Linked DNA regions of Homo sapiens. The protein of the gene in region 2 interacts with the protein of the main gene of each other region in a pairwise test. Each region holds a gene or a part of one and is shown on either strand. Other genes may lie near its edges.

Region 1 (3,600 bases), on a different chromosome or scaffold from region 2:
CAGGTCTCGCTATGTTGCCCAGGCTGGTGTTGAACTCTTGGCTTCAAGTGTTCTTCCCGCCTCGGCCTCTCAAAGCACTGGGATTCCAGGCATGAGCCACCATGCCCAGCCAGGTACTGATGTCTTGAGCAGGCTGCTGACTGCATCTCTGTGACATTCTGTTCATGCCAACAGTCAACATGGCAGCCGTGTGGAGAGAGGAGCACGTGCACCGCAGGAGAGCCATCTGGGCCTGGGTAGGGTAATCACAGAGCTTTCAGGACATTGAAAGCTGGTTTTGGGAGAGGAGCTTTGGCAGGTCTGTGCCAGCCTGGATCCTCCTTGGGTTCCTCCGCAGGGTTCATCTGTTTCTGAGGCAGATCCACTCAGCAGTGGTGAGCTGCAGCCTGCAGCTTTGCGTGACACTCAGAGATGGCCCCAGACTCTGTTCCTCTACAGGGAAAGGTAATTGCTCTCTCAGAGCCAGTCCTAGGAGCAAAGGGTGGCTGGTAGAAATAACCCATGCTCAGAAAAAGCCTGCATTTTGCATCTTGGCTTCTCTACATTAAAAAACTTAGCTTCCCAATACTAATATAGCATTCACTCTGTGCCGGGCCCTGTTTGACCCCATGACACATCCGTATGAAGTTTTTTTTTTTTTTTTTGAGACGGAGTCTCACTCTGTCACCCAGGCTGGAGTGCAGTGGCGCTATCTCAGCTCACTGCAAGCTCCACCTCCCGGGTTCACACAATTCTCCTGCCTCAGCCTCCCGAGTAGCTAGGACTACAGGCGCCCGCCACCGCGCCCAGCTAATTTTTTGTATTTTTAGTAGAGACGAGGTTTCACTGTGTTAGTCAGGATGGTCTTGATCTCCTGACCTCGTGATCCGCCTGCCTCAGCCTCCCAAAGTGCTAGGATTACAGGCGTGAGCCACCGCGCCCAGCCTCGTATGAAGTTTTATGGTAGGGTTCAGGCAGGGAAGCAAACCCCTCTAAGTGATGCAGAATAGGGGTTTGTGGCAGGGGTGCGACTTTCCACATGGTGGTTGCTGGTGCCGACGTCCTGGTAAAGCGGTTGCCTCTGAGTGTGGTGTTGGTCTGAAGTCAGCAGCCGTGCAGTCAGGAAAGAAGGCTGGGCAAAGAGAAAGGCGCAAGGACAAACTGGCGCCCATGAAGATGGCCTGGACCTGTACGTGACCCTCACTGTCTCAGCCTCCATGACATTGGGCATCCTGCAGAAGAAGCTGGCGCCTTTGCCACAGAGCTATATGCACGCCTGGCTTATGACTCAGCGAAGCTGGAGCGGGGAGATGCAGCAGGAGCGGAGAATCCATGGGCTCGGTGCGGCCCCTCTCTCCCCTGGGCGAGCCCGTGGAGCCACAGAATGCAGAATGTGCCTGGCTGAGCTGCGGCAGCACCGGAGCCGCTTCACCTCCACCTTTCACTCATGCAGATGTCTCTGGGAGTCAGCTTCAACTGGGAACCACGTAGGAAGGAAATTCTGGGCAACGTAGTTCCAGTTGAGCTCTGTGCACGCAGTATATGCAGCCACCGTGAGGGAGTCTGTTATTTTTTTCCACTTTATAGGTAGGACAGTGGAGGGAGGGAGGGGTTAAGTGACCTGCCCAGAGTCACCTAGCTAGTAAGTGGGACTCCCGCTTCAGTGCTTTTGAAGCTGCCACCCAGTGCTTCTACTTTTTCGCTCCAGGAAGCCCACCCGAGTCCTCCAGGAGCTGGACCTCGGGGCCCTCCGGTCCATCGAGAGCTCCCCCGAGATGAAGCCTCCCAGGTACAGGAAACTTCCCGCACAGCCCCTGGATAGGCCGCGGTGGAGCTCAGTCCTGGTCTCTTGGAAGTTGAAGTTTCTTTATGTTTCACCATGCATACTTATTTCTCGGTGACAAGCTTCCTGTGTCTCTCTTACGAGAATGCTGACCAGGCTTGTCTGGGGCTCACCGTGAGCACCCGATGCGGCTGGCAGGTGGAGGACGTTTGTGTGTGGATCATGTGTTTGGGCCCCTTCACAACAACTCGTACCTTTTACTGCCAGCTGCTGCCAGGGGCTGTAGGCATCCCACTGCCGCTTACAGAGATCCAAGTGTTTGTTTCCCAGTAAGCCATGGAGTTTAGAGTTGAGCAAAGGCCTGCCTGGCACACGACTGCCACTGGGTCGGCCGAGCCCTGGGTCTGCAGCTCCCTTTAGGAGCTGGAGGAAGGGCCACCAAAGCCATGGGTGGCGTTTCTTGAGCTGCATCTCAGGGTGGGGCAGCACACCCCAGGCCCTGTGCCCTAGGGGCCTAGATGGGGTAAGCACAGATTTTCTCTACCGCTGGAAACTTAGGGAGGAGGGCTTTGCAAACAGCGACTGAATGGAGCCAAAGGGGATTCAGGCATCATGGGATAAGCAAAGTGAGTATTCAGTCTCCAAATCTGAGACCTCAAAGTTCTTGAATTTCCTGACTGCCTCAGTCTCCCAGCCTATGCTTCCTGAGTCCTGTTAGCACCTGGGGCTGTTGACATGCAATTCTTTGGTCATGTGTCTTAGTCAGTTCTAGCTGTTATAACAAAACACCACAGACTGGGTGGCTTATAAACCACAGACACTTCCATCTCACAGTTCTGGAGGCTGGGAGTCCAAGACAAGGTGCCAGCAGATTCAGTGCCTGGTGGGGCCCCTTTTCCTGGTTCATGAGATGGTGGCTTCTTCCTGTGTCCTCACATGCGGAGGGGGCAAGCTGGCACTATGGGACCTCTTTTATAAGGGCACTCATTCCATTAGTGAGGGCTCTGTCCTTGCAGCCTAATCACCTCCCAGAGGCCCCACCTCCTCATACCGTCACCCTGGCAATTAGGTTTCCATGTGTGAATTTTGGAGGGACACATACTCAGATTGTAGCATCATGTTCACCTTATTTTCTGTGGGTGCTGTCTCCTGGACTTAGGCTGAGTCCTGCACAAAGAGAGCTTCCATGTGGGGCTCCTGACCCCCTCCCACTGTGTCCCCTGCTGTGTAACCTCTGCATAGGAGGGACTGAAGAGTTGTCAAGAGGCCTGGTTTGGGACGGTCCTTACTGGTCATTTGAGGAGGTAAAACTTCCGTGAGGTGATTACTTTAAATAAGCTTTTAAATGTGAAATAATTTTAGATTAATAGAAGAGTTTTACAGATAGTACAGAGAGTGCCCATATCCCCTCCATCCAGCCTGACCTACTGTTAACATCGCACACAGCCACGGCAAATTAATCTCTACCATGAGATGACAGCACTATTCACGAAACCCTAGACTTTCTTCTCATGTCCCCGGTTTTCCCACTGATGACCTTTTTGTGTTCCAGGATCCAGTCTGGATGCCATGCTGCATTTACTTGTCACATCTCCTTAAGTCTCCAGTGTGTGACAGTCTCTCGGTCGTTCCTCATGTTTCATGACCTTGACACGTGAGGAGTCGGGTATTTTGTAGACGGTCCCTCCGTTTGGGTTTGTTTGATGTTGTTTCGCAGTTAAAATGAGGTTATGGATTTGGGGATGGAACACCGTGGAGGTAAAGTGCCCTTCTTGTCACATCGTATCAGGGGCCACATGTTACCAACACAACTTAATAATGGTGATGTGAACCTTGAT
Region 2 (3,948 bases):
TGATTCATGGGAGGTCAAAATATCAATATTAACAGGATTTTGGAAGAAGTGGATTCTAACCCTAATGGATGATTTTGAGGGATTCAAGACTTCAATGGAGGAAGTAACTGTAGATGTGGTGGAAATAGCAAGAGAACTAGAAGTGGAACCTGAAGATGTGACTGAATTGCTGCAATCTCATAAAATTTGAACAGATGAGGAGTTGCTTCTTATAGATAAGCAGAGAGAGTGGTTTCTTGAGATAGAATCTACTCCTTGTGAAGATGCTGTGAACACTGTTGAAATGGCAACAAAGGATTTGAATATTCCATAAACTTAGTTGATAAAGCAGAGGCAGGGTTTGAGAAAACTGGATTGACTCCAATTTTGAAAGGTCCACTGTGGGTAAAATATTATCAACCAGCATCACACGCCATCAAGAACTCTTTCATGAAAACAAGTCAATCAATATAGCAAATGTCATTGTTGTCTTATTTTAAGGAATTGCCACAGCCACCCCAACCTTCAGCAGCCACCATCCAGATCAGTCAGCAGCCATTAACAAGGAGCAAAGACCCTCCAACTAGCAAAGAATATGACTTGCTAAAGGCCTAGATGATTGATAGCTTTTTTTTTTTTTGAGACCGAGTTTTGCTCTTCTTGCCCAGGCTGGAGTGTAATGGCGTGATCTCGGCTCACCACAACCTTCGCCACCCGGGTTCAAGCGATTCTCCTGCCTCAGCCTCCCTAGTAGCTGGGATTACAGGCATGCGCCACCATGCCCAGCTAATTTTGTATTTTTAGTAGAGACAGGGTTTCTCCATTTTGGTCAGGCTGGTCTTGAACTCCCCATCTCAGGTGATCCGCCCGCCTCGGCTTCCCAAAGGGCCGGTATTACAGGCGTGAGCCACCACGCCCAGCTGATAGCATTTTTTTAGCAGTCATGTATTTTATTTACTTGTTTATTTTTAGAGACAAGGTCTCACTCTGTCGCCAGGCAGGGGTGCGGAGGCACAATCATAGCTCACTGTAATCTCGAACCTCTGGGCTCATGCGACCCTCCTTCCTCAGAGCAATTAACAAATGTATATATACTTTTTCCTTCCTCTCTCCCAATATTTTAAATTAAGGTATGCACATTGTTTTAGACATAACGCTATTACACGCTTAATAGACTACATTATAAACATGATTGTATTTGCACTGGGACATGAAACATTTGTGAGACCTCACTTTGTCATATTGCGGTGGTCTGGAACCAAATTCGCAGTATCTCCAAGGTATGCCTGTACTAGATTTTCTATGCTTGAGTTTAGTCCATATCGTAAATACCTTGGAGGCAAAAGGAACACGGCAGAGAGCACAAAGAGGACAATACATATTTGCTGAAAAACAGTAGGACACAGAACTGCTGACGACGACAGCCTTGCCCTCTCCAGTTGACTGCAGCAAATGTTGCCAATTTGCCAGAGACAAGCAATTCGAGGAGAGAAAAGCTGCTTGCCTTTTCAGTTAGCAAGAAAAGTGCTGGGTTTGTCTTCTGCCGAGCACCCGCAACCCAGATCCCGACCCGAGATTCCTGAGACACACTTTCGGTGGAGGGAACTCCTAGCAGCAACGCCCAGCCCCCGGCGTGACCCTCCGACCGCACTTGCCTCCCAGCCTGGGAAGGTGGAAGAGGCCGCCCAAAGTCCCCTCAGTTGGCCAGTGAGTGACCCCTGGGCGGAGGCGGCGCAGTGGCCCCCAATCCAGCCTCGGGGCGAGAGGCGGGGCGCGCCGCGCGCCCCCGCCCATCGCGGGCGCCCCAGCCCTGCGCGCCAGGCCTGCGTGTCCTCGCGCCGACCCCTCCCTCGCGCGCCTCGCCCGGCGCACGCGCGTGGCCTCGCGCAGGGCGGGGAGAGGCGGTGGCTGTGGGCGTCCGGCCCCGAACCTGTCAGACCTGGGGAGCCGGCCTCCAGCAGCGGGCGCGGCGGGCGCGAGCACGACCCCACTCTCCTGCGGCCGCGGGTGGAGCAGCGCGAGCCCGCCTCGCTGAGCCGGCCGGGGGCGGGGAGATGAGTTGCGGCCCCGCGGCAGCGCCCCAGGTATTAAATAGATGTGCCGCCCCCTCGCGGAGCCCCGGCGGAGCGTCGGGGTCGGCCCTGCGACCCGCCGCCAGCGGCTTCGGAACTTGAGGACAGGGTTGGGCGCCTTTAATTTATAACGTGTTTCGTTTTCCACAGGATGGGGAGGGACGCGCGGCACTGCCCTCGAGAACTGGCGCTCCGGTGAAGTAGGCGCCGCCGGCCGTCCGCCTCCCCCAAGCCGTTCCGCACCGCGGCCGCTCAGCCTCTGCCATGGCCGGCTCTGGCGCGTGGAAGCGCCTCAAATCTATGCTAAGGAAGGATGATGCGCCGCTGTTTTTAAATGACACCAGCGCCTTTGACTTCTCGGATGAGGCGGGGGACGAGGGGCTTTCTCGGTTCAACAAACTTCGAGTTGTGGTGGCCGATGACGGTTCCGAAGCCCCGGAAAGGCCTGTTAACGGGGCGCACCCGACCCTCCAGGCCGACGATGATTCCTTACTGGACCAAGACTTACCTTTGACCAACAGTCAGCTGAGTTTGAAGGTGGACTCCTGTGACAACTGCAGCAAACAGAGAGAGATACTGAAGCAGAGAAAGGTGAAAGCCAGGTTGACCATTGCTGCCGTTCTGTACTTGCTTTTCATGATTGGAGAACTTGTAGGTGAGTTGTGTTGCCAACTCACTTTCCGTTTACCTTTCCTCGAGAGTCTTTGTCAAGCTGTAGTTACACAGGCTTTGAGGTTTAACCCATCTTTTCAGGAAGTTTGTATTTATCAAGACACTGATCTCATGTGAAAAGGCCACACGGTTCCAAAGTGCAGCTCAATCTAAGTACAATATAAACTCCCCGAGATAACTTTGACTTTCTCTTCTAGTTGTTCAACCACTGTCATCTACCGTAAAGTTAAGGACGTTATCTTCATTGTATGTCATGTAACTTCCTCTTTTTACAAAGGTCTGGTAAAATACCAGGTTAATTTTCGCAACGTTTAAAATAGTAAATGATCGTAAATAACTTAAGATCATAGAATTTTACAGTATGAAGGGACCTTACTGAACACCTGCTCCACCTCCTTTTTTTTTTTACATGTAAGGATTTCCAGGGCACAAACCAGTGGAATAAGTCGTGAGGGCCACTTAGGGAGTTAATGGAAGAGCCACATCTACAGTCCCAGCATTTTTTTCCTCTACATTTGACCTAAGTGGTTTCTTTTATACGATTTCCTTTTGTATTTATAGCCAAGAGATTTGCAAAATTAATTACCAACTAACATGAAATTTTTGCCTCGTAAGAAGGGCCTGAAATGAACCAGAGGACTCCGCCAAAGTTCTATGAGCCTGGTTTTCTTGTTCATTTTTTAATTATACGAACAATCCGTTCTCAATATAAGATACATTCTTAGTTTAGAGGTTATTTTCAATCACGTCAGTATAACTACTAACTTCTCAGTGACAGTTTACAAAGTGACATAAAAGCAGGGAGATGATTCTTACATGTCATCTCTTAAATGATGAACCATGACAAAAACAGGTGGCAGTCCAGATTTAAGATGTTTGACTGGAGGGTTCTATGTGGGAAAAATTATATACATTTCCTACCTTCTTTCATAACACTCCTCCCCAGGGCTCGCTTCAGCCATGCTGGTCTTCTTTTTCCTCTTACAACTCACAAAGCTCTTTTTGCCTCTAAGGCGTTCAAAGTGGCTGGTCCTTCTATCTCAGTGGCTTTCAAACATTTTTTGACCTCACTGTAGTAAGAAATACACTTCACATTGTGACTCATTTAGGCATGCATGCATACATATGTATGAGAATATACACAGGTCACATGTGTATAAATATATGTATAACTGAAACAAAAGTTTTCCTTCATGTGATGTATCCTAATAGTTTCTTCAATTGT

What was found. Proteins that work in one complex are often made in the same cells at the same time.
Region 1: the proteins of SLC30A4 (region 2) and TMEM163 interact in binary tests that used the Homo sapiens proteins (3 or more experiments, as listed by UniProt).

What each region holds. Positions count from the first base shown.
Region 1 is NC_000002.12:134,467,401-134,471,000, reverse strand, and holds part of TMEM163 (transmembrane protein 163), read left to right. Parts: intron 1-3,600. UniProt on the Homo sapiens protein: Zinc ion transporter that mediates zinc efflux and plays a crucial role in intracellular zinc homeostasis. Binds the divalent cations Zn(2+), Ni(2+), and to a minor extent Cu(2+).
Region 2 is NC_000015.10:45,520,722-45,524,669, reverse strand, and holds the start of SLC30A4 (probable proton-coupled zinc antiporter SLC30A4), read left to right. Parts: upstream 1-1,914; 5' UTR 1,915-2,063; exon of another isoform or gene 2,064-2,201; 5' UTR 2,202-2,315; coding exon 2,316-2,706; intron 2,707-3,948. UniProt on the Homo sapiens protein: Probable proton-coupled zinc ion antiporter mediating zinc import from cytoplasm potentially into the endocytic compartment. Controls zinc deposition in milk.